Regions from separate parts of the Homo sapiens genome. Here all the other regions are linked to region 2. The links come from fine-mapping of genetic effects on gene expression. A gene starts in region 2. Each other region holds a variant in brackets. All regions are shown on one strand. Distances are from middle to middle.

The links.
Region 1: its variant is fine-mapped to the expression of KBTBD11 in whole blood (TOPMed, PIP above 0.99).
Region 3: its variant is fine-mapped to the expression of KBTBD11 in whole blood (INTERVAL, PIP above 0.99).

Annotation. Positions count from the first base shown.
Region 1 is chr8:2,111,658-2,121,298 of GRCh38, reverse strand. MYOM2 (myomesin 2) reads right to left here. Exons shown (of 37, transcript NM_003970.4): 26 at 5,195-5,339; 27 at 5,024-5,083; 28 at 3,347-3,414. Among named protein-coding and RNA genes, the nearest start is that of MIR7160, 40 kb to the right of the region's middle. The variant C/G (reference allele first, on the strand shown) is at 4,314.
Region 2 is chr8:1,969,012-1,979,728 of GRCh38, reverse strand. It overlaps KBTBD11 (kelch repeat and BTB domain containing 11), which reads right to left and starts at 6,052. Exons shown (of 2, transcript NM_014867.3): 1 at 5,794-6,052. KBTBD11-AS1 (KBTBD11 antisense RNA 1) reads left to right here and starts at 6,384. Exons shown (of 3, transcript NR_136275.1): 1 at 6,384-6,581; 2 at 7,066-7,189; 3 at 7,372-8,550. It overlaps KBTBD11-OT1 (KBTBD11 overlapping transcript 1), which reads right to left and starts at 8,332. Exons shown (of 3, transcript NR_126346.1): 1 at 8,211-8,332; 2 at 7,692-7,804; 3 at 3,285-3,830. RefSeq lists enhancers at 624-1,182, 1,183-1,742.
Region 3 is chr8:2,001,583-2,010,660 of GRCh38, reverse strand. It overlaps KBTBD11 (kelch repeat and BTB domain containing 11), which reads right to left. Exons shown (of 2, transcript NM_014867.3): 2 at 3,725-9,078. The coding sequence ends at 7,597. Among named protein-coding and RNA genes, the nearest start is that of KBTBD11, 32 kb to the right of the region's middle. The variant C/G (reference allele first, on the strand shown) is at 4,590.

The DNA of each region.
Region 1 (9,641 bases), 140 kb before region 2:
ATACCAACAACAACAAAAAGAATAAACCAGCACCATAACCAAGTCACACTGACTTGCTCTGGGCTTTGAGTTGCTGACTCCCTAAGGAACTGATTTTTGCAGTGCTGATGTCTAAAATTTGGAAGAAACATACCTTTCTGTGCAGGGTAAATAATTTGAGAAAGTTGTTTTTGCAGCATGAATGGACTACATACACAGGCTATCATCAGTCACCTGGCAGGATTCTTCCCTTTAAATGTCCATTATGCTTTTCATTTGTTGAGCAAGACTTCTAAAGACCACTTCCCTTGCAGCTTCCTTGCAAGTAACCTTCTCTTCTTTTATAAATGTTTTCATTTCTGAATCTTCCTTTTAAACACACTAGTGCAAGAAATTCACTACCAAAAATAAATCTAAGTATTTTTCTATAATAAATTTACCACAACCTTGAGCATGTTATCGAACCTATCAAATCAAAGCCTTAGCTCTAGTTATCACTAATATATATATAATGTATTATCAATTATATATCTATATAAATTTCTTTCAAGAAGAGAGGAAGGGAAAACAGTATTGATTTAAGAGACAGTAAGCAATTAGATTGGCAATTAAAATATATATATTATATATTTATATATAATATAATATATATATATATATACAGGAAATCAAATTGCAAATTAATTACCAATACTGAGGATGGTCAGAATAGTAAGACGGTTCCTTTCATCACACAAATTTCTAGGAGTAACCTGCACCTATCTAGGGTGTGTTCAACAGCCACCTAGTTCCAAACCCCCATGCCCCATCCTCCTGCAAATCCCCTTGCCCGGGTCCACTCCCGAGTGCACTGCAGACCTCTGCTCCACAGGCACGCACTTGCTCTTCACGGCAGGTCCCCACCTGACACTTAGGCTCATCAACAAGCTCACACCCCAGTGTCCCCGCTGAGGTGGCCAAGTGGAGATCACCAAGGCTTAGCCCTGCCTCCTCTCCATTTATCCCGCCTGGCCTCACTTTCCTGCTCAACTTAGACAGCTGGTTGACCAACTAACGACAGTTAAACAAGACCCAAAGTTCCTATTCCATCTTCCCTTCTTGCAACTTCCATCCAGCAAGACCCCAATCATGAGTCTGTCCCCTGACTCACACTAGGTCACTGGCCACATCTGGAAAAATCAATCCCAGCACCCCTATGTGGGCCACTACGAGCTATCTCCACGTTGATGCACTCAACAATGATTTCCATTCTTAATAAGGAGCTGCTGTCTTGCCTCCTTCAGTGGCAATCACAGCCCACTCCTGCCACTCCCCCCACTGTGGGCTACCTTCCTCATCTTCAACACCCTCCAACCCTTCACTGGAAAGAGTGTGAAACCAACGGGCTGCACTGATGGATCTGCCGCTTGCTCTGCCCTGGTTTTTGGCATCCCCCCCGCCCCCTCATTGTCCTTCACAGGGAGCTGCCCTGGGGGCCAAGCAGCCCCTTGCATGGCTGTGCTGACCTGGTCTCATCTCCCTCCAGGCCAGCACTGCCCCTCCTGTGTCCCCATGTGCTCCCCTTCCTTCACCTGTGAGTCCTCTTCCACTGACCCCTCTGCCTATAAATAGGATTGAGCGTCTCCATCCAGAAGGAAAGACAAAGCCACCCTGACTCCCCTCGCTCTCCCTCACTGCCAGCTGAGCACCTCAGAGGGCAGCGGGCTCCTGCTCGTATCCCCCCTTGTGTCCCATCTCCTCAGCCCACCACGTAGAGACCCTGCCTTGCCAGGGAGTGGGGTTGGAAAGCCCAGCACCCAGCCCGTGCTGCCTCCAGCTGTCCCTGCTCAGCCGGCCATGCAGCGCTGCCTCCAGCCGCCCCTCCTCACCCGGCCACGCAGCGCTTCACTCCAAAGTCCCTCCCTGCCAGAGGCCACCAAGTCACTTGCTTTCCCTCTGAACTCTCTGAGGGTTTCTGCTTAATAATCCTGGAGCTGGTCTCCTCTTCTCCTCTGACAATCTGAATTTTCCAGAATGCCCCAATTGTTTGTGATGTTCCTGTCTCTAAAGGCTGTCCTTTGGCAGCTTGACCCACTTGCGTCATGTCCACAGCCAAGCATTCCCAATACCTCATGAATCCACACACGATATCTCATGAATCCACATGCTCCAGATGACTTTCCCATTGCTGCCAGGTTCACATGTCCTGTCGTGAGCCGGTTATGCCTTACTGACCATTCCACGGATATAACTAAATCTTTGTGAAATTGAATGTATTCTCAAAACCCTAAAACTTGGCCCTCCCCGTACAGTGCTGATCTCAAGAAATATCACACCCACTCGGTCCTCCAGTACACTTCCCTCTCACCCACACCCAGCTACTTGCCAGCCCCTGCTGGTTTTAACTGCTGGATGTGTATCCTAAATCTCCTTCTCTCGGTGGATATGAAACTGCCCTGCTGGAGTTACCATCTCTCAGCAGCCTACTGAAGCGTCGTCCTCCAGCCCTGCCACCTCCAGCCTTCCTTGTCAACCAGCAGCCCGTGTCACTGCACTAACAGCCCTCAGGTGCTCTGTACCCTCTCAGTCCATGGCCAGCCTCTGGGTCCTGCAGGGGAATGCCCCACTTGCCCACCAGCCTTGGGTTTTTTATTGTTTTTATTTTTAAGTGCACAGTTCAGCTTCTCTGTCCCTCCCTGCTGCTGGATCTTCCTAGAACCATCTTTTCCCACTCACTGGCCTGCATAATTCTTAGTCCCCTTGGCACACGCAGCTCACGAATCATCTCTTTATTGAAACTGTCTGTTTACTTTTCTCTCTTATCCAGTAGACAATAAGAAACTAGTTTGGGAGTAAAAACAATGCATTATTGATCTTTTTCCCCCATCCCCTCATCCTGAGACAGTCAAATAGTAGGCAGTTATTAAATTGAAGATTTGCTGCTTAAAAAACAGATTTTTATATTTAGTAATAAAACATATTTCATTACTACATTGTTAAACGAAACTGAAAGAAGTATCTTGTCTCCAAAGCATGCCTTTCCTTTCCTGATGAACTCGTATGAGCAGCACTTCTAGGTGTATTTCACCAGGGCACACTTTCTCATAAACTCACTTAATAATCGTTTAAGTAAAATTTTTATAATCCAACCTTCCATTGCATCCCACTACACTGTAATCTTTTCGTGAAGAAGAAAAGATAAGCACTGAAGTCCAAGTATTAAAAAGTCCACAGGACCCAAAAGCCACTCCGCCCATCCGCAGCTACACAGGCACCACACGTTTCCTCACCAGCATCACAGATCTGGCCACAGCTACTCCCTGAAAGGCCTCTCTGATAGGAACCAGAATGAGATTTATTGTTTTCCTGTTAGAACCGGGTTTCTCACCTTGCAAACAAGTCGAACTTCACATTCTTCCGTGACATCCCAGTGCAAGTACTCAGCAAAATGAGGGCCTAGGGAGGAAAAAAGGGAAGAAAACATATAAAAAAGGAAAAAGTAAACAAATAAATATATAGCTATTATATATATATACCCACACATATATGCATGGTGTGTATATATAATACATAAGAATGTATTATATATATTTATGTAATGCATTTTTGGCAGAACACAATAGCTGTGGAGGATGAAACTGAGATAGTTTTCAGGCCTGGGATGTCGACACGTGTTAACACTGATTCTCCACTGGAATCTGTGCTTCCTGGTAGGAGCGTACGTCTGATGGCTCCTTCTTACTGACATCTCATATCTATTGCTCTTCAGAAAGGAGGCTATTGAAATAATTATATTTTGTTTCCCAAAGTATATGTCTAACTGAACATTCGACAACATGGTAAATAATACCTTTAAATAAGAGAATAGATATGAGATAAAGAAACAACAGTTTGACCTAGCAATTTTGTAAAACACATTTTCTTTAGATAGCATTCAAAATCAAAGACAGGTTTATATATGTTTTTAAAAAATGTTAATCATTTTTATTTAAAATACATGTAGGAATAAGTCATACACTAATACCCTTTTGCCATTCAATGCAAAAATACAAAGCAGATTTGGAAAGTATGTGTTCACTTCTTTCATATACATAAATACATCCTACAAAGTTGGCCCAAAAATGTTCATAATGTAGAAGTAAGTAAAATATTTGTGACTATTAGAAATAAAAACAATGAAAAATAATAAAAATGAATGTTTTGATTTTATGTTTCATAATTCACATTCTAATTTTTCTCAAGAAGTTCAGAAATCCCATATATAAAAATGTTTTTTGAGGCTGGGCGCAGTGGATCACCCCTGTAATCCCAGCACTTTGGGAGGCCAAGGCGGGCGGATCACGAGGTCAGGAGAT[C/G]GAGACCATCCTGGTTAACACGGTGAAACCCCGTCCGTCTCTACTAAAAATACAGAAAAAATTAACCGGGCATAGTGGCGGGCGCCTGTAGTCCCAGCTATTCGGGAGGCTGAGGCAGGAGAACGGCGTGAACCCGGGAGGCGGAGCTTGCAGTGAGCCAAGATGGCATCACCGCACTCCAGCCTGGGCAACAGAGCAAGACTCCATCTCAAAAAAGAAAAAAAATTCTTTGAATAAACCCTTGGGGTATGTTTGAGAATCTAAAGTGTATCCATTTTCCTTTGTATCTAGTTAACATGTATTTGTAAAAGCAATCTATTTAAAACATATTGTTTGTAGTTAGAAAGTTTAACAGCTCCCACAATCTTAAGTAGAATGAGCAATTTCCTGGTGATAGGAATAGCCTCTACTGCCTTCTCTACATTTCAAAGCCAAATGAAGCCACCACCTCCTCTACCCCCATTCTTTATTCTTTTCATTAAAATTGCTGGACTCCGTCTGGACATTAAAGCTAGAGGCACGCTTTCCTCTTCACTCCCCTGCTATAAAGCAGGTTCCTTTCCTATGCAGTTGGTAAGCCTAACCTCTTAATCATTTAAAACAGCCTTTAGGGTTGCTTGGGATCATGCAAGATCTGCTTCTGACAAATACTCCAATCATCTTTGCTTTATGCTAGGGGCAGGGGAGCCGGTCAGAGTGAGGAAACTCACCTTGTTTCCTGAGAAATTCTTTCCTTTGAAACTCAGCCTCTTCCAGCACAGTCTTGAATGCTAAATTCAATATTTAAAAAAATATATATGAAACATGTTTGCTTCTCTCCAGTCAAAAGAATTTCATTTGAATTATCTTGTATGGACGTGGAAATATTCGATATAGCATACCATCTCCAATAAGAACTAGAGAAGACTGACTTTTGGCTTTCCCATCATGAATCTGCACAGTGTAGGTCCCCTCATTTTCAATACTAAATCGATCCATCACCATCTCAATAATGCCAGTAGCTTTGTCACATTTAATTCTGTGTATCTGCAAGCAAAACAAGGGAAATGGAGAATTATACAAGGAAATCTCTCCTAGTTTTCCCTTGCAACATTTAACAATTGCATCAGCCATGAGATCTCAAGGGATTATGATAGGAAGAAACCAAAATGAAATTTTATCAAGGAAACCTCTGGGTGAACAAGGATCAAACAGTGGGTATGAGCTGTCACTCAGTGACAAAGCCTGGCTGTGTGAGGAGATCTGAGAGTCCAAACCAGGGACCTTCTAGGCAGAGACTCCACACCTACCCAAGAATGAGTTACTAACGTGAAGCAGATAAAATTCACAGGAGAAAATAAAATGATACGCAATTGATATGAATGATAACGATCACCAGCTGATGACAAAAATCCCACATGGATAGCAACAACAGGCAATCTCCACAGCCACTGTCATCTTCAGCTCCCGGGACACAGCACCCACAAGCCCCAGCCTGCTGTGGTCCATCAGGGTGCAGGGGTTTCAGGTGAGGAAAGGATAAATGGACCTCCAACAGGTGTTGACTTTTTTGATCGCTTTTATTTTTTAAATGTTTCATTTTATTCTACAGTACATGCACAGATACATATGAATGTGTTCTATTTAGGTAATCCTACAAGTCAAAGAACAAGTGTTTCTCTAACACACAGATGAATTGAGCAAATTTGATCTTTTGTTTCCCTCTGATTTTGTGATGTTTACTTATTAACTTTTTAACTTCACTAAAACCATTTTCCCCATCTTTATTAATGCTTATTTCTCTTTTTTATGTTTTGTTTGTTTGTTTTTTGTTTTTTTTTTGCTGGTTGCCTTATTTGGGGGCTTGATATTTTTACCTTTTTGTGCTTCTTGATAATTATTAAAGTTATAAATTAATATTAATACTTAAATTTCACTTTTTCACTTAAATAACTCTAATTCTAATGAAACCTTTCAAAACATCAATCAGCCTGTGTAATTTTTAGAACTGTTTCAAACCAATTTCATATGGTATTGGTCTTTGCCAATATATGTTCTTAATATATTAGACCATCTCTTCCTTGTAATTCTGAAAACGAGTTTTCCTGTGTAGCAGTATATAAATTTGTCACATCCCTGTGGTCCCAGCTACAGGGAAGGCTGAGGCAGGAGGATCGCTTGGGCAACAGAGAAAGACCCTGTCTCAAAAAAATAAAAAGAAAAAAGAAATTTTGTTAGGCTGGGTGCAGTGGCTCACACCTGTAATCCCAGCACTTTGGGAGGCCAAGGTGGGCAGATCACCTGAGGTGGGGAGTTCGAGACCAGCTTGGCCAACATGGTGAAACTCCAACTCTACTAAAAATACAAGAATTAGCCAGGTGTGGTGGCGCACGCCTGTAATCCCAGCTACTCAGAAGGCTGAGGCATGAGCTTGAACTCAGGAGGCAGAGGATGCAGTGAACCGAGATCACAGTCACTGCACTCCAGCCTGGGCAACAGAGTGAGACTCTGTCTCAAAAAAAGGGGGAAAGAAGAAATTTTGTCATATATAATGCATACAACCAAACCACAAACATTTGCCCACACAGTTCCCCCTCCCTGCCTGCAGTGCAGCTGTCTTGTTGCTAAGATAGGAGAAAGACTGGAAGGCTGTTGGTTGGTCTGAGAACACTACTTTGCATCACTTCATGATTTCTAGGTTACACTGTATCACAGGAACAGTCCACAGAAGCCTGGACTACCTGCCTCTCTGCTGCTTTGGTGATGAATGCAGGGATACATTTCATGCCTTGGAGTTCCCTGAGGGCCATGCCCCAAAGTTCTGAGCTTGCAGGCCTCTCTGCAACAGTGCAGCTTCTGCCCATCCTTGTCGTGGCCACCTCACCCGAATGCAGCCCTTGTGACTGGCTCCAAGGGAGACTTCCCTGATGCCCCCGGGTGAGGCTTGGTGTTTTATGGGGTTTCCACAGCTCTGCCTCCCTTCCCCCAATAGCACCCTGCCCTTGGGAGCACCCTCCCCACCCTACCTATCCACCTGCCGTCTGTCTGTCTCGCCAGACAATGAGCCCCTGAGAGCAGGCATGGCCTTACTCATCCCTGCAGCCTCACGCTGTGCCCAGCATCATGCCTGGCAGTGAGAAATACCAAACACATGTCCAACAAGGTTCTGATGAGAAAGTCAGCTGGAGGGGGCTTAGCTCACCCTGCCATCTGTGGCATTGAGGTGGCTGTGGTCTCTGACACTACTAAGTGACACTGAGCAATTTTGGAAGATAATTATGCTTCTAGGTGAGAGCCCGCGGACATGGTCAGGACCGGAACTTCCTTCCCAGTGCAGACCTGAGAAGCCTTCTTGATCAACTGAGACCTTCCCCTCCAGATCAGTCATCGGCTGAAACTATGAACCTGTCCCAGTCGGTCCTTCCTCCATCCCTGGCTGCAACTGTCACCTCTCTTCCTTCAACAGCTAACCCCCTGCACCACCCTCTTTGACCTCCCTGCCTTGGTGCAGCCACACCCTGGGCACAGAAGCCCCACCCCAGGCAGCATCTGGGGTAGAGACCTCCCAAGGCCTTCACCTGCTCCCAGCTCACCTTCCCCACACCTCTGCTCACTCAGCCTTTGGGATGTGCTAACAGATACTGAAAGGTGTTATGGCTGCTAGTGGATTGTGTTGTACTCCACCTGGATGATACAGTGTCTGACATTGAGCAGGGTCTTGACGGTAGAAGGACCACATCCCAGTGTGTGACTCATCCTAAATGCAGCAGTAATGCAAGGCACGATGGCGTCGAGGGAATCCAATGTCCAGCGCGGGACTCGCCCCAGCCATGCCACCGTAGAATCACGGGAGTGTGGATGCCCGGCCTCGGCTTCCTCGTGCCCAGCGTTACCAATACGGTAGTCTCAGCTGCTGTCAATATTTTCTGCAGATCTGCATCTACCTGTCGGATCGATCTCAGCTGGAATTGGGGCAAAGGCTTTCCAGCCTGAATAATGATCTTACCCAGGACCCAAGGAGGCTCTTGGGGCCACATGAGCAAAACAAAAAACTAATAACCTGTGGTGCTCGGCAAATGAGGCAGGCGTAGCGGGAGAAGACTCCGTCAGCCCTTGGAACCACACTCCTCTCACAGCCCTTGCCTTAGCAGCAATACTGCAGAGAATTTCTATCTGCAGGTGACAATGTAAGTTTAGCCAGAAAATCAGCAACCTTCTTCTGATAAATCACGTGCATTTGTTTTCACATGTTCTTCTTTCTCTCTGAGTTTACATTTCTGTTTTGATATTGCAAATGCCAGTGCCACCGGAGAGGCTTTAGAAGACGAATATTAGCAAACTGGCCACTTGGTTCAGTTTCTCTCTCTGTGTTCATTTTCTTCAGCATTGTTTCTAAGTTCTTCTGCCTGACATTCAAAGTCTGTATCTTCTGACCCCACTCCTATTCCCCAACACTATTTCCTAAGATCACTCAGGCAAACAGCCCCCTCCGTTGAGCCCACCCCTCCACTTCCCTGTGTCGCTATTCCCTGATCATTCCCCACTCTCTGTGCACTAGAGCGGCTTGGAATGTCTCATTCTCTCCCTCCCATCCCTGACCCCCACCCCCCGACCCATGATTTCTACCTCCTTAACACCCATTTCAATAACCCTCTACCCTTGAAATCCTTCCTGACTACTTCAGCCTCTTCAACTCTCTGCCTTCTCTGAATTCTGAGAGTGTTTACTGTACTGTTTTAATATAACCTGGGTTCTATCTTTCTTCTCTGTCCTCCTCTAATTGAAGGTGTATTTCTTTGACTCCGTGACAGTCTCTGTAAGGGCAACTTCACATCTGACTGTTCTGTCCCTGCTGGTGTATTGGCCAAGTGGATATTCAACAGGTGATGTACAGGGTAGGTGCTGCCGTCCACTGGGAAAGGAAGAGGACCGCCCAAGCTCCCAACAGCTCCCGGGGATGCTGCAATTTTTGTTTCATCGAATCTGACATTCAGGGTTTACGTGTGAATAAAGTCTGCTCCACTCCTACCCCAGGTTTTGATTTCCCATAAACACAAAAATCACCTTCGCAATTAGAAATTACAATATTATATCAGAGATGTAGATCACACAGCGTATACTTGTGTAAGATCACTGAGACTTTTTCTAAACAGAAAACTGGCACAGGAAATTGGTACATCTACAATGATAGAAAGTGACAGAAATGAATGAGAAGGCATGACCTCAGACTGTTTTTGAGGGAGGGAGATTATTTTAAGAAATGGCTCAACTGCAGGAAGCACAACAACTTTGTCCCCGTCCCTGGAGACTGACGTCGCTCTTGGAGGTACCATGAGCAGGAGAGGGACC
Region 2 (10,717 bases):
AGGTTATGATAGGTACTTTTATGTGTCCCCTTGGCTAGGCCACAGTACCCAGATATTTAGTCAATCACAGTCCAAATGTCACTATGAAGGGTTTTGTTTTGAGACAGAGTCTCACTCTGTAGCCCAGGCTGGAGTGCAGTGGCGCAATCTCGGCTCACTGCAACCTCCGCCCCCTGGGTCATGCAATTCCCATGCCTCAGCCTCCCAAGTAGCTGGGATCACAAGTGCGTGCCACCACACCTGGCTAATTTTTGTGTTTTTAGTAGAGACGGGGTTTCACCATGTTGGCCAGGCTGGTCTCAAACTCCTGACCTCAAGTGATCTGCCTACCTCGGCCTCCCAAAGTGCTGGGATTACAGGCGTGAGCCACTGCACCTGGCCTAAGGGTGTTTTTTAAAGACATGATTAACATTTACATGGGAAGATTTTGAGTAAAGCATGTTTCTATTCACAATATGGGTGGGCCTCGTCCAATCAGTCAAAGCCTTAAAAAGGCGGAGGTTCCCGAGGAGGAGGGACTGCAATGCCAGCACTTCCCTGGCTATCCAGCCTGCCGGCCTGCCCTGCAGATCTCAGACTTGCCCCACCACCATCGGATGAGCCAGGTCCTTCAATCTTGCTCTCTAATCCCTCTCACACGTGCAGACACATGCACACACATGCACACACATGTACCCAGTTGGTTGTGTTTCCCTGGAGAACCCTGACCAGCACGAGGGCCTACAGCAGTTCTCCTGTGCCTGCCCAGGGCTGTGCACTGTGGGCTGGGGGTGGGTCTCTCATTGCTTTGGAACACCAGCCTTTGCATTAGAGGAAGGACTGGAACCCAGGGAGGCACTTTCACACCTGACTTCCATGATGACTTCCTGGAGCCCAAGTCTTGATGCCACAACAGGATGAGACTTGGGGATCGCCGTAGCCTTTTTTATGTGGAAGGGACATGACCTTAGTGGAAAGAGCAGATTCTATTTTCCAAACATGCCGCATGGATGAACCCTGCTCGGCACGCCCATCCCGCCCAGTGAGATTCCCCTGCGCTCACAGTTGAGACCCCGTTCCCTCCCCTTCTACGTGGCAGGCCAGGGACTGAGGGGGAAGCAACACAACATGACCTCCCCGCCTCGTGAGAAAGGTGACCCGGTTCCACCTGGCTGTTTTCTCAGGTCACAGTCCGTGGTGACCCTGACTCAACACACAGGGAGTCCACTGCATCAAGGCTGCCACGCTGCAGCGAGTACATGGACGGTCACACAGTGACAGGGGAAGGTCCCCGAGGGGCCCCTGCTGCGCCAGCCCCCAGTGTGTGAATCCTCCTGGCGCAAGCCTCAGGCAGCAAGTCAGTGGCCTCCATGGTTCCAGCCCTTGGCCTTCAAGCTCCGCATCTGGTGCTGAGTGGCACCAAGGTGAGCTGTGCCCAGCGAGACTGCAGACTTTTAAGCAAAATGAATGCTATTGCTACGAATACAGGAACAGAAAACCAAACACCACGTTCTCACTTATAAGTGGGAGCTGAATGATGAGAACACATGGACTCAGGGAGGGGAACAACACACACTGGGGCCTGTAGAGGGCGGCGGAGGGAGAGCATCAGGATAAAGAGCTAATGCCTGCTGGGCTTAATACCTAGGTGATGGGTTGACAGGTGCAACAAACCACCATGGCACACGTTTACCTATGTAACAAAACTGCACCTCCCGCACATGTACCCTGCAACTTAAAATATAAATAAATGCTATTGTTTTAAGCCACTAAGCTGTGCATGGCTTATTGAACCACCATGATATTGGAACAAGGGTCGTGATACGAATATTCAGAACTGTGAACTGCATCTTGCAGGAATGGGAAGCTATGAAAGGCCCACTATTGTAAGAATTTTAAAAAATAATTGCTCTGAGCTGGGAGTGGTGGTTCATGCCTGTAATCCCAGCACTTTGGGAGGCCAAGGCAGGAAGATCACTTGAGGCCAGGAGTTCGAGACCAGCCTGGCTAACATGCTGAGACCCCATCTCTACTAAAACTACAAAAAAAAATAAATAAATAAGTTGGGTGTGCTGGAGGGCGCCTGTAATCCCAGCTACTCGAGAGACTGAGACATGAGAATTGCTTGAACCCTGGAGGCGGAGGTTGCCGTGAGCTGACATGGTGCCACTGGATTCCAGCCTGGATGACAGAGCCAGACTCCATCTCAAAATATAATAATAATAATAAAAATCATTGTTCTGACTACTGCAGGAGGACCTGTTCAAAGAGAGGATGTGCAGAGCCTCTCCAGAGACTACTGCAGGAGTCCAAGCATGAGATGGAGGTGGCCAGGACAAAGATGGTACACTTCATAGAACCACACCCATATGTATGTCCCCACGACTCTACACCTTTCTAATAAAACAGTAACAATACCAGCTAACATCGGCACCGTGGTTTTTCATTTACAAAACATTCTATGTGCATCTTCCTATTTAATGATTTCACTTTAGGACTCGGGAAGTCTCCATGCTACAAAATTAATCCATATGAAACTCAGTCAAGCTCTAAAGCAGGGGTCTCCAATCTTTTGGCTTCCGTGGGCCACACTGGAAGAATTGTCTTGGGTCACACATAAAATAGACTAACACTAATGATAGATGATGAGCTTAAAAAAAAAAAAAACTCATAATGTTTTAAGAAAGTTTACAAATCTGTGTTGGGCCTCATTCAAAGCTGTCCTGGGCCACATGTGGCTCGTGGCCCATGGGTTGGAGGACCTTGCTCTAAAGTGTGAAGCTCCATCAATTTAACTCAGCCATAAAATCGGCTGACATTACACTTTTACTACACCCTGCTCCAGCGCCCCTCACTGACCTCTCCGTGCTCTAGTCCTCACCACAGGGCCTTTGCACACAATGTTCCCGCAAACTGTCCCCTCCTGGGCTCCTGAGCCACCCCTCTCATCCCTTAGTTCTCGGCCTAACATTCCTCTGTTACGTGCATTCAAGGGAATGTATTCCTCTCCTTCAACGCACTCATCTCCGTGTGTTATTACCTAAGAATTAACGTAATTATATGCTGAATGCCTTTCACTGTATTAACGTCTCAGCTGCAGATAGCAGAGAACTAGGCTGACTTTACTTACAACTGTATTCCCAGCACCTAGGACTGAGCCTGACCCACAGCAGGGTGGGGGGTGGGGGAGCAGGGGAACTCCACAAATATTCAGAAGAGAAGGAAATTCATGCTAATCCTTCAAACAAAATGCACATAAGACATGCAACGGTTTCTATTTCCAAGACAACATTTATTTCAAAATCATTTCTAGCAGGAACCTGGCTGTTGGCAAAAAGTAAACTAGATGCTTTAATTTATTCTTAAAGTTTTTGCTCATTGTTAAATACTTTGCAAACATGTGCTGGATACCAACACTATACTTTTAGCTTAATTACAATGATTTCAAGAGGAAAAAAAAAACAAACTCAAGACCACAATTGACACGATGAGCCCTTGACCTCCGGAGAAGGGCAGATATCGCCCTGAGTCACCAAGGGAACACATGCTGAATGACAGGCTGATTTGTGATCAGGAAACCCGCTGTTCTCCGGGCCCTTCTCAAGCCCACTCAGACACCAGTCCTCCTTGATCACAGCCTTGGATGCAAGGAGGCTTAGAGGCACTGCAGCTGCCTAAGTGATTCCAGATTTGCAGGAGAGCTATTATTACTGAGCAATCTGTGCTCTTGGTATTTAGAAAACAACTGAAACATGTGCCCAGATGGAGGCGTCCACAGCACGGAGAGTCTCTCTGTATCAGCACAGGGACAAAGACGGGACCTGCTGGGCTCCCACTGCCAAGGTTGCTACCTGTACCGGAACATATGGAAACCCCATTGAAGCGGGTTTGTATTGGAGTTTACAAATGATGCGATAAGCTCCAAACCACCTTTCCGGATTCTTCCATCCACCCAGAGCAAGGTGCTCTGAGGTTCAAGTTAGGCCCAGACATCAGTCAACACAGAGTCCTGCTCCCTGGGAATTTCTTTAGTCTCAGAGCCACAACATTTAAGCTTTCTCCCCTCCTCCCAAGCCCAATGCTGGCTTAAATACAGTCACGAATGGTTCAGATGCAGACAGGTTCTGAGAAATGATAGTTAGATAACTTCATCACTGTGCAAACATCACACAGGGCACCTACACACCTAGGCGGTGCAGCCTGCTACACACCTGTGCTCCACTGCACAGACTCCTGCTCCAGACTGCACACCTGTGCAGCGTGCACAATACCGCAGGCAATTGTAACACAATGGTGTTTGTGTATCTACACATTTCTAAGCATGAAAAAGACACAGGGAAAACAGTTTTATAATCTTACAGGACCACCGTCAACTTGGCGGTCTGTAATTGATCCGAACGTGGCTGTGCTACACATCACTATAATGTAAGCAACATCTTTTAACTGATTTTATTATGTGCTGTCCAATGCTATGGCCAGCAATGCCTGTGCAACTGACATGGAAAGTTCAAAGGCTTTACCTCATTACAATTTTTACTTAGTTATGCCCTGATGGGAGCATTGCAATGCCAGTTACCATAAATCTGCACACACGAGGTTGTTGCTGGAGCAAATCTGAAGGCAATGGAACGCTCCCTTCCGTGATGTCAGGAATGGGGAGGATTATTCTAATAATAGCACACTATTAGCTCAGGATAAAAGGCTGAAGGGTTCCATTGACATCCATTAAGGGGTCCTAATTGGAGCCTGAGTAACTGCTCCTTAGTGGGAAATGGAGGCGGGAACCGCGGGGAATCGGGCGAACTTCTCACTCAGGGCCTGAGGGGATGGCTGGAACTTTAAAATCTGACGGCGGCGCCTTTCGTGGGCTGAGTAGAATAAAGCTCGCTGCACTGATTTGTTCCTTTTCTTTTCCTTAGAATAGACACTGGAGTGGGTGGAGGGGGAAACGTGGTTTTGTAGGACTCTAAAGAGGTGGAGGGACTTTGGTTCACCCTCTTTTCATGCTCCAGAATGAGCCCCGCCTGAGAGGAGGGACCCCTGCGGAATCCCGCCCAGACCGCCCGGGGGTCTCCCCAGCACATGGGGCGGGGGCTGCAAGGGGCGCCCGGCAGGACTCGGGAGCCGCGGCGCGGTGGGGCGGGTGGGTCGCGGTGCTCGGGGCTCGCGGGGGTCAGCAGCCAGGACACCCCCGCACCCCGGGCGCAGCGGCGGAGGACCAAGGGCCGCGCTCCCCTCCCCAGGGCCCCGAGTCCAGGAGAGACCCCCGTTCGCTCCGGACAGCCGATCCCCGCGACCGCCGAGAGCCAAGCGGAGCAACCCCGGGAGGAGCCCCCGCCCTGGCCCCGCGCGCTTGGCTTCGGCTTCTGCTCCTGCTTCCGTGCCGGCTGGGGCGGCGGGACCCTCGGCGGGGGCGGTGACTGCGGGCGCGGCGCGGGCGGCTCATTGTCTTCCGGCCGGGGTTGCCGCGTCCCGGGGGAGGGCCTGTGGAGACCCCGCGAGGAGGCCCCCACGCCCCCCACGCGGCCTCCCGGAGGCGGAGCGGAGACCACCCACCGCCGCCCACCCCGCCGCGGGCAGCGCTGCCCCCTCCTCTCCCGGTCCCCCCTCCCCTCCCCTCCGCTCCGCTCCCCTCCCTCCCCTGCCGGCCTCCCCTCCCCGCCTCTCCCCTGCCGGCCTCCCCTTTTCTCCCCTCCCGCCTACTGCCGCTCTCGCCGACCACCTCCCACCCGCCGCCCCCTCCGACCCGCGCCTCGGGCTGCTTCCCGCTCCGCCCGCCAGGCCCCGCCGCTGCCTCCCCGGGGTCCGCCCTACCTCGCCGCGGCTCCTCTTCAGCCGCCGGGCCCGGGACGCGCAGCCAGGCGGGTGGGCTCCGGCGCATGCGCGCGGCCGCTTCCCGGCACCTGTGGGAGCCGCGGCCCGGCCTCTCCGAGCACCTGCGAGCGGGAGCTGCTCCTCCGACCCGCAGCGGGGCGTGGGCGGCAGAGGGGGCGGTGGACAGGCCTCTCCGCCTCTCCAGGCCGCGCGGAGCCAGCGCTCCGGCTCCAGGCTGCGAGGGGCGCGCGCGGGGCGCGGGGAGGGGGGCGGGCGCGTGCACACGGGGCGTTTTCGGGCGCGCGCCCCCTGGCTGGGTCTGCGGAGGGGCTGTGGGTTCCCCGGGGCTTCCCTGCCCCGCGCCTGCCCGCCGGGCGCTTCTCCCCCTCCAGGACCGCGGCCCACGTCGCCACTCGAGCCCGAGCCCGAGCCCGCGCCCACGCGCGGGGGCCGCTTCCTGCGAGGAGGCGGGGACAGGTGTCCGCGGGCGCAAACAGCGGAGTTTCGTGCGCCTATTTTTTGGTAAAAGTAGAGGCGATGCGTTGTTGACATATTTAGTGGTTAAAAACTTATTGCCAAATTCTCAACAGATTCCAGAATTTTTTAAAGTTCACAACACGAGAGTGGACGAAATGTCGGAGCTTTTGCTCATATCCAGAAATGTGGCCTCTGCCTCCCACTCGGGCCCTGCGGTGCAGACGGGTTCAGGGCGGCGAGGACTGAGCCAGGAGCGCCGAGAGTTCCAGCTGCTCCCAGGCTGGGTTCTAATTAACGCTGGACCCCTGCTGGTAAATGCTATTTTTAATGGCTTTGTGCAAATTAATGACGATGAGATTTCCATAAGTACCGAGAGCCAGAGCCTTTACTTTCTCTTTTTGTGTTCTTTTTGCTTGTGACAGTCTTTGCCAGTTCCATGCTGTATACACATAATGAGCCGTTACAACTCCAGCACCAAAGCTAACGCCCCGGGAACATCTTTAAAACCTTTTTCACTCTGTTGCCAAGAAGAGTAGTACCTGCTGTCAGTACTTGAATTACAGGAGGCTGAAACTCAGCGAGCTACTGGGATTTTTTGAAAATTGAAAACTTCCGTTAACTATAGCAGAAACAGACCCTTTTGGTGGAAGCTAAAATAATTCCCATGCTGCTCCGTTTTTATTTTGTTCAGTTTACTCCAAAAATGTTCCAAACTCTACTGTGATCTTCTTAGTGCATCTCTACTTCCTTTCGGCTGCAGAATAATACTTCTTTTTCTCTTTTGTTTTTTTTTAGAGATGGAGTCTCACTCTGTCGCCCAGGCTGGAATGCAGTGGTGCAATCTCGGCTCACTGCGATCTCTGCGTCCTGGGTTCAAGCAATTCTCCTGCCTCAGCCTCCCAAGTAGCTGTGACTACAGGCATGCACCACCACACCCAGCTAAATTTTGTATTTTTAGTAGAGACAGGGTTTCACTGTACATTGGCCAGGCTGGTCTCGATCTCCTGACCTCAAGTGATCCACCTGTCTTGGCCTCCCAAAGTGCTGGGATTACAGGCATGAGCCACCGCGCCTGGCCTAACTACCCCCATTCTTTTCCAGAGAAACGTGAACAGGCCAAACAAAGCCTCACCTGGCTATCCCGCCACCCTGGGGTTGGGCCTCCAAAGGCCCGGGAGGTCACCTAAGACACGGTGTTCTGAACATGCAAGCCCGACAGCATCTTCTCTACCATTCTGCCAGAGTCCAGAGACCTGGGAATAGGTCATACCCCCCACTGCATTTTACAAGCTTGGCATACATTAGGTTCTCAATAAATACTGAATTAATGAAAAAATTGCTGAAGTAACTGAAAACATCCATCCAAACCCCACACCATCTGGTAGATAAGTAGTCTGTGGGGAGTCCCATATTTTTCTTACCTTAGATATTTATTTGGAAATGGACTGTAGGCCCAATATGGTCAATGAAACTTGCAGAGGAACATTTCATGCCTTTAATTAGTTCTTCATAACTGCAGGGACCTCTAGAGTTCCTGAAATTGAACTGGGTTGTAATACTGTCAAGAAAAAGGAGGACCTATCTTAAATCTATTTCAAGGGTAATACTATTTTACTATGTAAATTTTCCCCTGGTCAGGGACAGCCTGATCATGCATGGTAGACTCGAAGCATGCAAATATTTCAACATGCAAAACCGCCCTAAAAATATAACCGAAGCTTATGGAGTTGTCCAGGGTACAGTGGTTTACTGGCCCCTGAATGCGGGACTCCATCAAACTGGGTTCCAGGCTGGGAGGTCTCTGAACCCAATTTCTAGACAGCCTGCTTTGGAGTTCAACTGATGGGACCTTAGACACCAGCCTTACCCTCTGCAAGTCTTGTGATTTGGAGCCAGATACTTGGCCTCTCTGTGCTCCAGGGAGACACCACTGCACCTACCTGAGAGGACTGAAGGAGAGGATCTGTGCAACTCACTCAGGATACTGGATCTTAAGCCAATGGGTGGACTTACATTCGTCACCTCTGATTCTGTCTCCTCCTGCGCGGTGACTTAGCAAACACTTCTTCCTCTCCAGCTCTGCTTCTTACTCTCCAGCTCTGCTGCCCTGTTCCAGTGCTGACGCCAGACAACAGATAATTTCCCAAATGCTTGTATTAGCCCTTAGGAGTTCATGTGTTCCTCCCCCAGCCAATAAAGCTGTTAAATCCCAATAACTGTCAGGAATGGAGCCAATTGCTATAAAGTACTTCCAGCTTCTTGGCATGAAGAAATAATTAGAATATATGTGTTGGCTTTGAAACAACACTCACTGGTTCATTAAAAAATTCTGTGCATATTGTACAAAAGTAGTCTTGGCCTTGGCACTCCCTTAGGTGAACCTTACCCGGCCCTGGCACTCCCTTAGGTGAACCTTACCCGGCCCTGGCACTCCCTTAGGTGAACCTTACCTACTTCAGTGCTTCCTCAGCTCTGATGAACTGTGTGCAATTGCGTTTTTGTCGCAAGCTGCTGCTTAAATACTGTGAAGCTCTTTCCTTATGTCAGTCTCTCCACCTATGTTACCAGCCAGCGCCTGAGACCCTCATATTAAGGAAACAGTGTGTTCCTAAGTCCTCTTTGATATTGTCCACTATTGACTATCGATAGCAAACATGCATTGGCCATGTGCTAAGCATGTCATTCCCCAAATTTTATTTTTTTGAGACAGTTTCGCTCTTGTTGCCCAGTGTGAAGTGGAATGGTGTGATCTCAGCGTACTACAACCTCCACCTTCCGGGTTCACGTGATTCTCCTGCCTCAGACTCCCGAGTAGTTGGGATTACAGGTGTGTGCCACCACGCCCGGCTAATTTTTTTTATTTTTAATAGAGATGGGGTTTCACCACGTTGGTCAGTCTGGTCTCAAACTCCTGACCTGAGGTGATCCACCCACCTCGGCCTCCCAAAGCGCTGGGATTACAGGCGTGAGCCACCGTGCCTGGACCCCAAATTTTAAATTACAGACAGTCCCAGGTTTAAGATGATACCCTAATTGTCCTGATTCGAATAGGGAAACGGAGGCCATGCTTTTTAGTTTTGTACCCCTGGGCCCAGCAATGTGAGGGCATGAAGCCAAGCTCGGTAATTGTTGACTAAATGAAGGAGTGAGGCCTGTTGAGCCCAAATGCCCATTGCTCATCATCCCTGACAGGCTCTCCCAGGGGCTGCAGGGGCCTGGGCACGTGGTTCCCTCAAGCAGATTGCAGGTTACCCACAGGCAACACGCTCTGCCAGTGAATTAACGCTGCTGTCTCCACATGGCCAGTACGTTTATTAGGGGGAATCCTAGTAACCATTTTTCAGAAAAATAAAGGAAATAAGATGGCAACCATTACTTTAAAATAGTTTCAAGGCATATATTAATAATGTTAGAGCAAGTTAGCTGCAATTTAAAATATTTTGAGGGTCGGGGGCAGTGACTCACATCTGTGGTCCCAGCACTTTGGGAGGCTGAGGCGGGCAGATTGCCTGAGCCTAGGAGTTGGAGACCAGCCTGGGCAACATGGAGAAACCCTGTCTCCACAAAAATACAAAACATTAGCCGGGCGTGCTGGCGTGCACCTGTAGTCCCAGCTACTCAGGAGGCCGAAGTGAGAGGATTGCTTGAGCCTGGGAGGTTGAGGCTGCTCTGAGCCATGATTGCGCCACTGCACTCCAGCTGGAGCAACACAGTGAGACCCTGTCTCAAATATATATATTTATGTATTTTAAATATAAATTTTATGTTATATTTATATTTATATATTTATATATATTTATATAGATTTATAGATTTATAGATTTATAGATTTTATTATTTATAAAATCTATAAATATATAAATATATATAAATATATAAATATATAAATATATATTATATATAAAATATAAAATATATATTTATATATAAAATATAAAATATATATTTATATATAAAATATAAAAATATATATTACATAATATAAAAATATATTTTATATATATTTTATTATATATAATATATAATATATTTATAAATATACATTTTCCATATAAAATTTATAAATATACATTTTCCATATAAAATTTATAAATATACATTTTCCATATAAAATTTATAAATATACATTTTCCATATAAAATTTATAAATACAGATTTTATATATAAATTTATAAATATAGATTTTATATAAATTTATAAATATGTATTTTATATATAAATTTATAAATATATATTTTATATATAAATTTATAAATATATATTTTATATATAAATTTATAAATATATATTTTATATATAAATTTATGTTTTAAATCTAAAACATATAAAATATATGTTTTAAATCTGAAACATGTAAAATAGATGTTTTAAATCTGAAACATGTAAAATAGATGTTTTAAATCTGAAACATGTAAAATAGATGTTTTAAATCTGAAACATGTAAAAT
Region 3 (9,078 bases), 32 kb before region 2:
GCAAGATGGGCTCTGAAGGGAGGGCCTTAACACGCCTCCTTCAAGACCTCCGAGGAACTGAGCACAGTCAGCTCTTCTGTGCACAAATAGGTTTAATTGCGCTGGGCGCGGGCTCATGCCTATAATTCTGGTACTTTGGGAGGCCAAGGCAGGCGGATCACTCGAGGTCAGGAGTTCCAGAGCAGCCTGGCCAACGTGGTGAAATGCCATCTCTACCAAAAATACAAAAATTACCCGGGCACGATGGTGTGCGCCTGTAATCTGAACTACTCGGGAGGCTGAGGCAGAGAATAGCTTGAACCCAGGAGGCGGAGGTTGTAGTGAGCCAAGACTGCACCAGTGCACTCCAGCCTGGGTGACAGAGTGAGACCCTGTCTAAAAAAAAATTGGGGGTTGGGGGGAGACGAATAGCTTTAATTTCATTTGTCTGAAGAGGTGAAAAGTCCCCCTTTCTCACTGAGCAAGAATATTAGACTTCTGCAAATTGTTCTCACTTCTTTCTTTTGCCTCAATTTATAAGATTCATTGCCTCAGTCTAAAAGGCCCACGTGTTTCCTGGTGTTATATCAGGTTTAAAATATTCAAAATACTCAGCTAAGAAAACCATTCTCATTTATTATAAAAATCCTAAAGCTCAGCAGGGGAAAATGGTGACGCCATAGAAGAGTTCAAACAGAATTCTATTTCCACAGAAGAAAATGCTATGAGAAAAACTAAGATAACAACTTCAGGTTGGAGAGCTTCTGTCTCCACTCTGCTTACGAATATACTTTTAGCAACATTCCTTTTTTTGGGATGCAGCTCTGGGAGCTGCATCCTCTAGGAGTCCTGGTGCCCTGATACCCTGTGGGGGGTGGGGGCTGAGTGCATCTGACCCCCTGGGGTGGGGGGCTGAGTGCATCTGACCCCCTGGGGTTGGGGCTGAGTGCAGCTGATACCCTGAGGTGGGGCTGAGTGCATCTGACACCCTGGGGTGGGGGCTGAGTGCATCTGACCCCCTGGGGTTGGGGCTGAGTGCATGAAAAATAAAGATTTTAAGAGGAAAAATAATTTTTTCAAGACCCCTGACAAATGAACAATAACACTTGGTTCTGGCTCAAGTACAAATTGTGTCTAGAAACGTTTGGGCCTGCTGCAGTGGCTCACACCTTAATCCCAGTACTTTGGGAGGCTGAGGCAGGAAGACAGCTTAGGGCCAGGAGTCTGACACAAGCCTGGGCAACACAGTGAGACCCCATCGCTACCAGAACTAAAAACATTAGTTGACCATGGTGGCATGCACCTGTGGTCCCAGCTACTCAGGAGGCTGAGGCGGGAGGATCACTTGAGCCCAGGAGTTGGAGGCTGCAGTGAGCTGAGAGTGCACCACTGCCCTCCAGCCTGGGCGACAGAGGGAGAAACAGAGGGAGACCCCATCACAAAAAAAAGAAGCACACGAAAAAGAAAAAAGAAAAATGTTTGTGTCTACAGGTTTTCAACTCAAACTTTTCCTTGGTAGGAGGCCAGGTGAGGGTGGAGGAGGGTGTCTTCGGATCAGAGGAAGAAAGAAGCCCAGGTGGCCCGATGGCTGGGTGTCGTCACGGCCATGGCCTTATCTGCTCTGAGGGCAGGGTGGTGGCGACATGCAGGAGCACCAGGTCTCACCACAGCGTTCACTCGGCCCACGCCTCAAGCACACGGGACGGGAAGGAGCGTCTTCCTCCCTCATCCTGGCCACGCCTTTCATCGGCTCCAGACCGTTTTCTTCCTCAGCTGTCTCAGTGAAGACCCCAGGAGCCTGTGAGGCCCGTGTCCTTTTCCATTGCGGGTGCGGGGCTCGAGGCCACCCCTCCTGTGTCGAGCTGGGTTCGAGGCCCACACTTGGGCCTTGGGGTCGGCACTGGAGACGCTGGAGGCCACGGGGTCCTGAAGACCCCAGTGGTTAAATACGAGGCCCTGCCTGGTATTTAACATTCTAATCCGACCTCAGCCCAGTCTGAGGGCAGAGAGTGATCTCTAAGCTCCAACGGCTCAGAAACATGCAAAGGCACCTACCCCTGTGCTCCCCCAGGACATGGAGTGGCCACGAGAGGACAGGTGCATCCCCGGGGAACGTGGCTCCAGGCCTGTTTCCATTGCAAGGAAATTTCTGAGGCTCCTGGTCCTGGCCTCTCTGCAGCTCCTACCCCAGCCTCTTCTCCCCAGGGGAGGAATGTGGGGAGCAGCCCTTCCCTCACATCTGGGCTCTCCCATGGGACCTGCCCCCCAGGAGCAGGGCTCTGTGCTCACTCACAGGGAGTTCTGGGAGCTGCATCCTCCAGGAGTCCTGGTGTCCTGATACCCTGTAGGGGGTGGGGGGCTGAGTGCATCTGACCCCCTGGGATTGGGGCTGAGTGCATCTGACACCCTTGGGTGGGGGCTGAGTGCATCTGATACCCTGGGGTGGGGGCTGAGTGCATCTGACCCCCTGGGGTTGGGGCTGAGTGCATCTGACACCCTGGGGTGGGGGGGTGAGTGCATCTGACACCCTGGGGTGGGGGCTGAGTGCAACTGATACCCTGGGATAGGCCTGAGTGCATCTGACACCCTGGGGTGGGGGCTGAGTGCATCTGACATCCTGGGGTAGGGGCTGAGTGCATATGACCCCCTGGGGTGCGGCTGAGTGCAAGTGACACCCTGGGGTGGGGCTGAGTGTATCTGACACCCTGGGGTGGGGGCTGAGTGCATATGACCCCCTGGGGTGGTAGGATGTGTGCACTGACTCCGGTGGCCTTCACAAGCCCACGTGGCAACAAACCCAGCACCACTCTCTGGCACAGCCCCTGCGGGTGAAGCAGTGGCTGTGAGTCCCACCTGCCTGGCTGCTGAGCCGTTTCTCAGTTCGTTCTTACCTGGGGGGTGGGCGGGAGGACATGTTCTACATTAGTTCCCCCAAGCCCCACTGCAACTGGGAAATTTCATGGAGGAGGTGCTGCTGGTGGAAGGGGACAGGACACCGGGGAAGACGTGGGATGGCCCTAATGCTCTTCCCTGCCCACCCTGGTACCTCCCGACCCACTCCAGGGGCAGGGGACTGTGCCTGACGGTCCTACTGACCACCTCTTTCATTTTCTGTGCTTTGTGATGTTTTGGCATCTTACAGCTTGCTGGCCTGGCCAGGGACAGGCTGTCCTCCTGAGTCAGCTCATTCTTAGAGATGGGAAGGGCTTGGCTGGGAGCTCATGGCCAGACCAACTGGCCGCAGTCCACACCCCCAAGCCCTCCTCAGCTACTCTCACACACAAGCCCTGCCCTGTATCACCCCTGGGCCCGGTACCAGGCAACTGGAGACCACCGTGATAGCACAAAGCCCACTGGAAGGACACAAACCAGTGCAGCGAAGCAGCTCCCCCAACCTGCCTTCCCTAGGAACCAAAGTCTAGGCGCTGGCCTCGGCTTCCACCTGCTCCTGTGCAGCCCATCCTGGTGTTCCCGAGGTCCTAGGTGGTGTGCCGTGATCCCCCGCTGGGACCCGTGAGCAGACCGAGGAATCCAGGGCACCTGGGAGTGGGAACAGACACCCCAACTTAGAACCTCTGTGCCAGGGGAGCTTCAGGAGCCGGTGAGGGCAGTTCCTCACTTAACGGGCAGGACGTGTCAACCCTGGGTCCCGCAGGCAGAGCTACGCTCCCTGATTCACAGGAGAAAAAGCCGCATCTGACGCTCGCTGTGGAGAAAGAGAAAAGCACTCGGGGCACATCAGGAGGACTGGCACTTTCTGCGTGATTTATTTCATCTCGGCATGAACTGACAAACATACGAGGCTCTGCACTATTTATGCCCAGGATTTTAAAAGTCAAGCATTAATAAATACATTAACTACACAGATCACAACAGCTGCCCTGAACTTGGCCTTCAACAGGTGTAGTTTACCTTTAATAAATGGTAACATTTGAGAATCGCTTAGAGCTTGAACAGGCTTTGGAGGAGCTTTGATCTCACATGAGAACCCGTCTCCTGTTTCATATGCGTTCAATCCAAATCCATCCACTTGGCGTGTCTGAAGCTCCTGCCAGCACAGTGTCTGTGCCGGGTGCCCGAAGGCTGCACAGTCCAGGCTTCCTCCCGGATGTGGAAAACGTGGAAATGATGTGGCCACTGAAAGAAATTCAAGACAACTGAAACAACTGCAGATTTCCATTTTCAGCTCGTGTTTTCTTATGAACAATAACATTGCAGAAGGGGAAATATCAGAAAGTTGATTGATTTTTAACCCAAAAACAGAACTTTTTGTAAGCTAGGAAAGCATCTAAAATTAACAAGAATACAAAAATGCACTTTTGTTTACATTTGCTCTATTTAGATCTTACAAGAGATTATGTCTTGAATCTATCCTGACTTCAGCAAAAGACAAAAGAACGTTGAAAACATCCTATTTCCAAATCGTTTACAGGAAGTTACCTAAGAGACTGACAGATTCAACGGCTGCTACCAGAATTACTGAAGTGACACCAGAAATTAGCAGAAACAGAGCAGATGATTAATTTCTTACTTATTTGTAGCCAAACTTATACAGTCACGAGTTTTAGTTAAGTAGCCAAAGAATTTCCACAACATTCATTTTCTTACAG[C/G]AGAAGTCGGTGCCTCCACAGACTCAGAAACCAAATCCCGAAGTTCCAAATCCAGCTCTACAAAGCTGCAGGAAGCAGTGCGGAGTGGAGGGATGTTCCCAAGAGGAAGAATAAAACCGGAAGGAAAAGGAGGAAGGCTCAAGCTCATTCCTCTGCATCTCAAATGAACCTTGATTGGCAATACAGAAGGGATTGCTGTCAACTAAGCAAAAGGTCAGGCTTCCATGCATAACATTTTCCCCAAAAGACACCACTGCCTTTTCAGACATTTGGAAAGGCCCCTGCGTATGGGTTAATTTCACGAGTCAGACATTTGGAAATGCCCCGGCATACGGGTTAATTTCATGAGGAGTGTGGACAGCTGTCATCAAGGCAATAGCCTCATCTAACTATTTTAATGGGTGGATGACCAGGAATATTTTTGCACCAACCTTTTTCCTACACAGTGTTGGACGCAGACTTAGAACACCACTTTGAATTGGAAAAGGTCCTACCTGGGGCATCAGCCGTTGCCAGGCAGTCTCAGCAATGCCTCTGCCCTCCCTGCAGCAGTCCCAAAATGAAAGCCACACCTTGGAGGGTGTGGCTTTTCTCTGTTTCATGGGTGCAAACCCTAGCGGCTCCACACCCCAGGGACTGGCCCCCAAAAAGCAAAAACACTGCTCATGGCGTGGCAGGTCCTCTAGTATGTATTTTTATGTGATATCACTATTCAGAACTGTGGTGTATACTATTCTATAAATTTCCACAATAGGTTGGCCGGACATCCTTTAATGGTGGGTATTAATTCCTCTTATTCTTTACGTTTCTTAGTGCATTTTGTTGTGAGGTGACAGGGAGCACCTGGGGCTTTGCTGCCGGGCCCCACAGGAAGCTGTGCTACATCTAGTGTGAGCATTCCTTCACTAAATGAAACGCTGGAAAGCCATGGGAACCGCACAGGACTGTGCAACCACCCCCATCCAACATCCACCACTTCTCATATCCTTTTCCGGGGACAGTGTTACTCTGGAAGCCTAATTTCAATATTTCATTTTCAAACAATAAACATTACAGGAATGATTTCACAAGTAAAATCACAGTGATAACAGCATATGAGTTTGATATTTAAGGACTGAAAATATTAGCCTGGTCCTGGTCCCATTTCATATAAAAATTTCTACCATTAATAAAATTCTAGAGGAAAAGGCAGGACAGTGTGAATGGTACATTGCTTAAAATGAACATTATTTGTTTCCTTTTGCTGTAAATACTGTTTCTACAACCATTTCTCCAGTATACTCCTATAAAAGGCCAATCAAGTCAGGCGATATGAAGTCTGTTTTTCTTTCCCAAGATGATTAACCAAGTTGCCAAGCTATCCCCTCAGTTCATGAGTAACCATGGGCAAGCAGACACGTCCCCAGAACATACCGTAACCCAGATCATAAATTCCAGCCCCCGAGTCATGCATAAGGTTCAAGCTGATCACTTCTAAACACACTTAACTGAGACCTCTCATAACCACAGACTCTTTAAAAAGCATAACCTATTTTTCAATTACCCACTGATTTCTACAGAGATGGCAGTTCCCATTACTGGATTAACAAACAAATAATATTAAAGTAGGCAGGATTTCAACTAGTTACGTTCCAGTAACTTTTCCTCTTACAGTAAGAAAATGGGTTGGATTCGGAGTTCAAATGTTCGCCTCTATTTGTGAGCATGGATCTCATCCTCAAAGTCATAATAGTAAGTCCTCTGTATACACACTTGAAAAGTAAAATGTTAAATGAGAAACGACCCAACTGATTTGTTTTTAATCCTCATACCCTGTCAATGCAGTGAGCCTCGTGTTAATTCTATTAGGGTATTTTGGAACTCAATTCAATACAATTAAATACATGCAGTTTACTTGCAAATCTATGGTGATAAGCACGTCACTTCCTTGTTATAAATCTATGCCCACTGTCACTCGGCCACACTTAGAATACTGATTGTAAAAATTAATCTCCCTCATCAGAACTACACGATCCACATTGAAAACATCATATACAGTGGGTTTAAAATGTGCCTACACTTTTTTTTATAGAACTGTCAAAGCAAAATGATTTTCCCCGCTTTTTAGGAATATTTTATCTCGTTCCAGATTATGAAAGCGGCTGGGCATACAGAGTGGACTATCAAAGATTGCTTTTTAGATAGACAAGCACCCTGGTAAGTTTTTCCTACTTATGATGTGCTGTTTGGTCACATTTAGCCACTGAAGACTTAAAATTTAAATAATGGTAAATCATCGCTACATCAGTTAACATCCTTTCAACTGAAAATATGAAAGCCCCCTCGGTCCAACAGTGAGACGGAGCTGCTCTAGGCATGTGAGTTTGAGTAGCAATGGTGTGGGGAAGGAAATACTTCCAATGCATATTGAACAAGAAACCTTACTGGTAATCAAAGATTTTACCTTTAATGCTTATTAAATTACTCTTTTTGGAGTTGAGCCAACCAAAGCGAGCACATGGTACGAAATTTTCAACTAAATCAGAAAGAGCTTTACTTATCAGTTATAATTTTAAATCTCAAGCCAAAAATAAAAGGCGTGACCCTCTCTGCGTGCTTCCCCCGATAGTTCGCGGCGACCTACTTGAGGGTCCCAGGCTCCTGCGCACAGCCTCGGTGCTCTGCGGGGTTCGGGACACCCCGGGGCCGGCTGCAGGCTGCCTCAGGAACCCCCACTGTACCCTGAGGCTGACCCTTTGGATCCCACAGCCTTCTCTGTGTCCTGTCTGTCAAGGGACCCATCCGCACACCTCCTGGGTCTCAAGGCATCCACCCCCAGAAGCAAAGACAAGCAAAAGGAAAGCAAAGCGAAAGCGGCCCTGAGAGCGTCCTCGGGGCTCCTTCGAAGTGTCCAAACCACCAGCGTGGCCAGCGGCCCCGACTCCCCACCACGTCCTCCTCCGCGGGCCCAAAGGGACCTGGGCCCCGCAAACCCCTGCCGAGGGAGACGCCCGCCGACCCCGCCGGCCTACGGGGCGCCCTGCTCCCCTCGGGGCGGCTTCTCAGGCAGGCTGAGAGCGAACGGGATGAGCACACCCCGGACGTCCAAGGGGGCGCCCAGCGCCTCGAAGCCGCCGCCCTGGCCTGCGTCGCCGCCGGCCTCGCCTTCCCGGGCAGGCTGGAAGCGCCAGGTGCCCGCGCGGCTCACGCAGTAGATGGCGCCGTCCAGGGCGGCGCAGCGGAAGGGCTGCAGGCCCGTGGGGCCGCCGGGGAGGCGCAGGGGCGCGACGCACGGGCTCCACTGCTTGGCCAGGCAGTGGTATCGGGACACGCTGACCCCGCTCGGCCCCGCCGCCTGCGCCTCGCCGCGGCTGCCGCTCAGATCGAAGCGGTAGATGAAGCCGTCGAGAGCCACCATGTCGGCCGAGCGCTCGCGGCTGCTGCTGCACGGGCACTCCTGCCACTCGTCGCGCCGCGGGTCATACTTGAGCAGGCGATAGAAGAGGGAGCCCCCGGACACGTAGATCTCGCCGTGGCAGGTGGTGGCCTCATGCGCCACGGCGAAGGCGCCCCGGGGCAGCGGCGCCACGGGGGCCCAGCGGTCGGCGCGCGGGTCGTAGCGCTCCACGCTGAGCAGGCACTCGCCGCCCACGGCGTAGAGGTGACCGTCCAGGGCCAGCAGCCGCAGCTGCGAGCGCGCCTGGCGCAGGGGCCTCACGGCGCTCCAGCTGTCCGTGGCCGGGTTGTAGCAGAAGACCTGGTCGGACGGGCGCGCGCGGCCGTCGGGGCCCGCGGGCGCCACGCCGCCCGCCACGAAGAGGTAGTTGTAGAGGACGCACAGGCCGCAGCCCCGCGCCGGCGCGCCCTCGGGCAGCCGCGTCAGCTCGCGCCACTCTCCGGCCGCCGCGTGGAAGCAGTAGACGGCCGCGTCCCCGCGCGCGTCCGCGTCCCCCGAGGGGCTCTGAGGCCGGCTGCCCGCGCGCTCCCCCGCCGGCCCGAGCGCCGCGGCCAAGAGGTGGGCGCGGCCGGCGCGCAGGCGGCGGCGCAGCAGCAGGTCCCGCTCTGCGCCCGACAGGCGGCCGAACACGGCGGGCTCGCGCAGCACCTCCAGATAGTGGTCGCTCATGAAGCAGTAGGCGGCGTCGCGCAGCTCGTTCAGCCGCTGCCGCTTGGCCGCGCTCAGGACCTCGTAGCAGTTGGCCAGGCTCAGCTGCGGCCCCACGGCGTCGGTGGCGCGCTGCGCGGCGCCGGGCAGCTGCAGGCGGCGCGCGCCGGCCACCACCTCGGCCACGTTGTCGGGCCGCACGCCCGCCATGCGCCCGCTGTAGGCGTCGGCGAGGAGCAGCCGCAGCGCCGTCAGGCTCACTCCCTGCACCCGCAGCACGTCCCGCGACGCGCGCGCGCGGAAGTAGTCGCTGCGCGCCGCCAGCACCGCCTTGTGCGCGCGCAGCCGGCGCCCCGACACCTCCAGCACCAGGTCCGGCTCCCCGTACACCGCCCCGAACCCCGG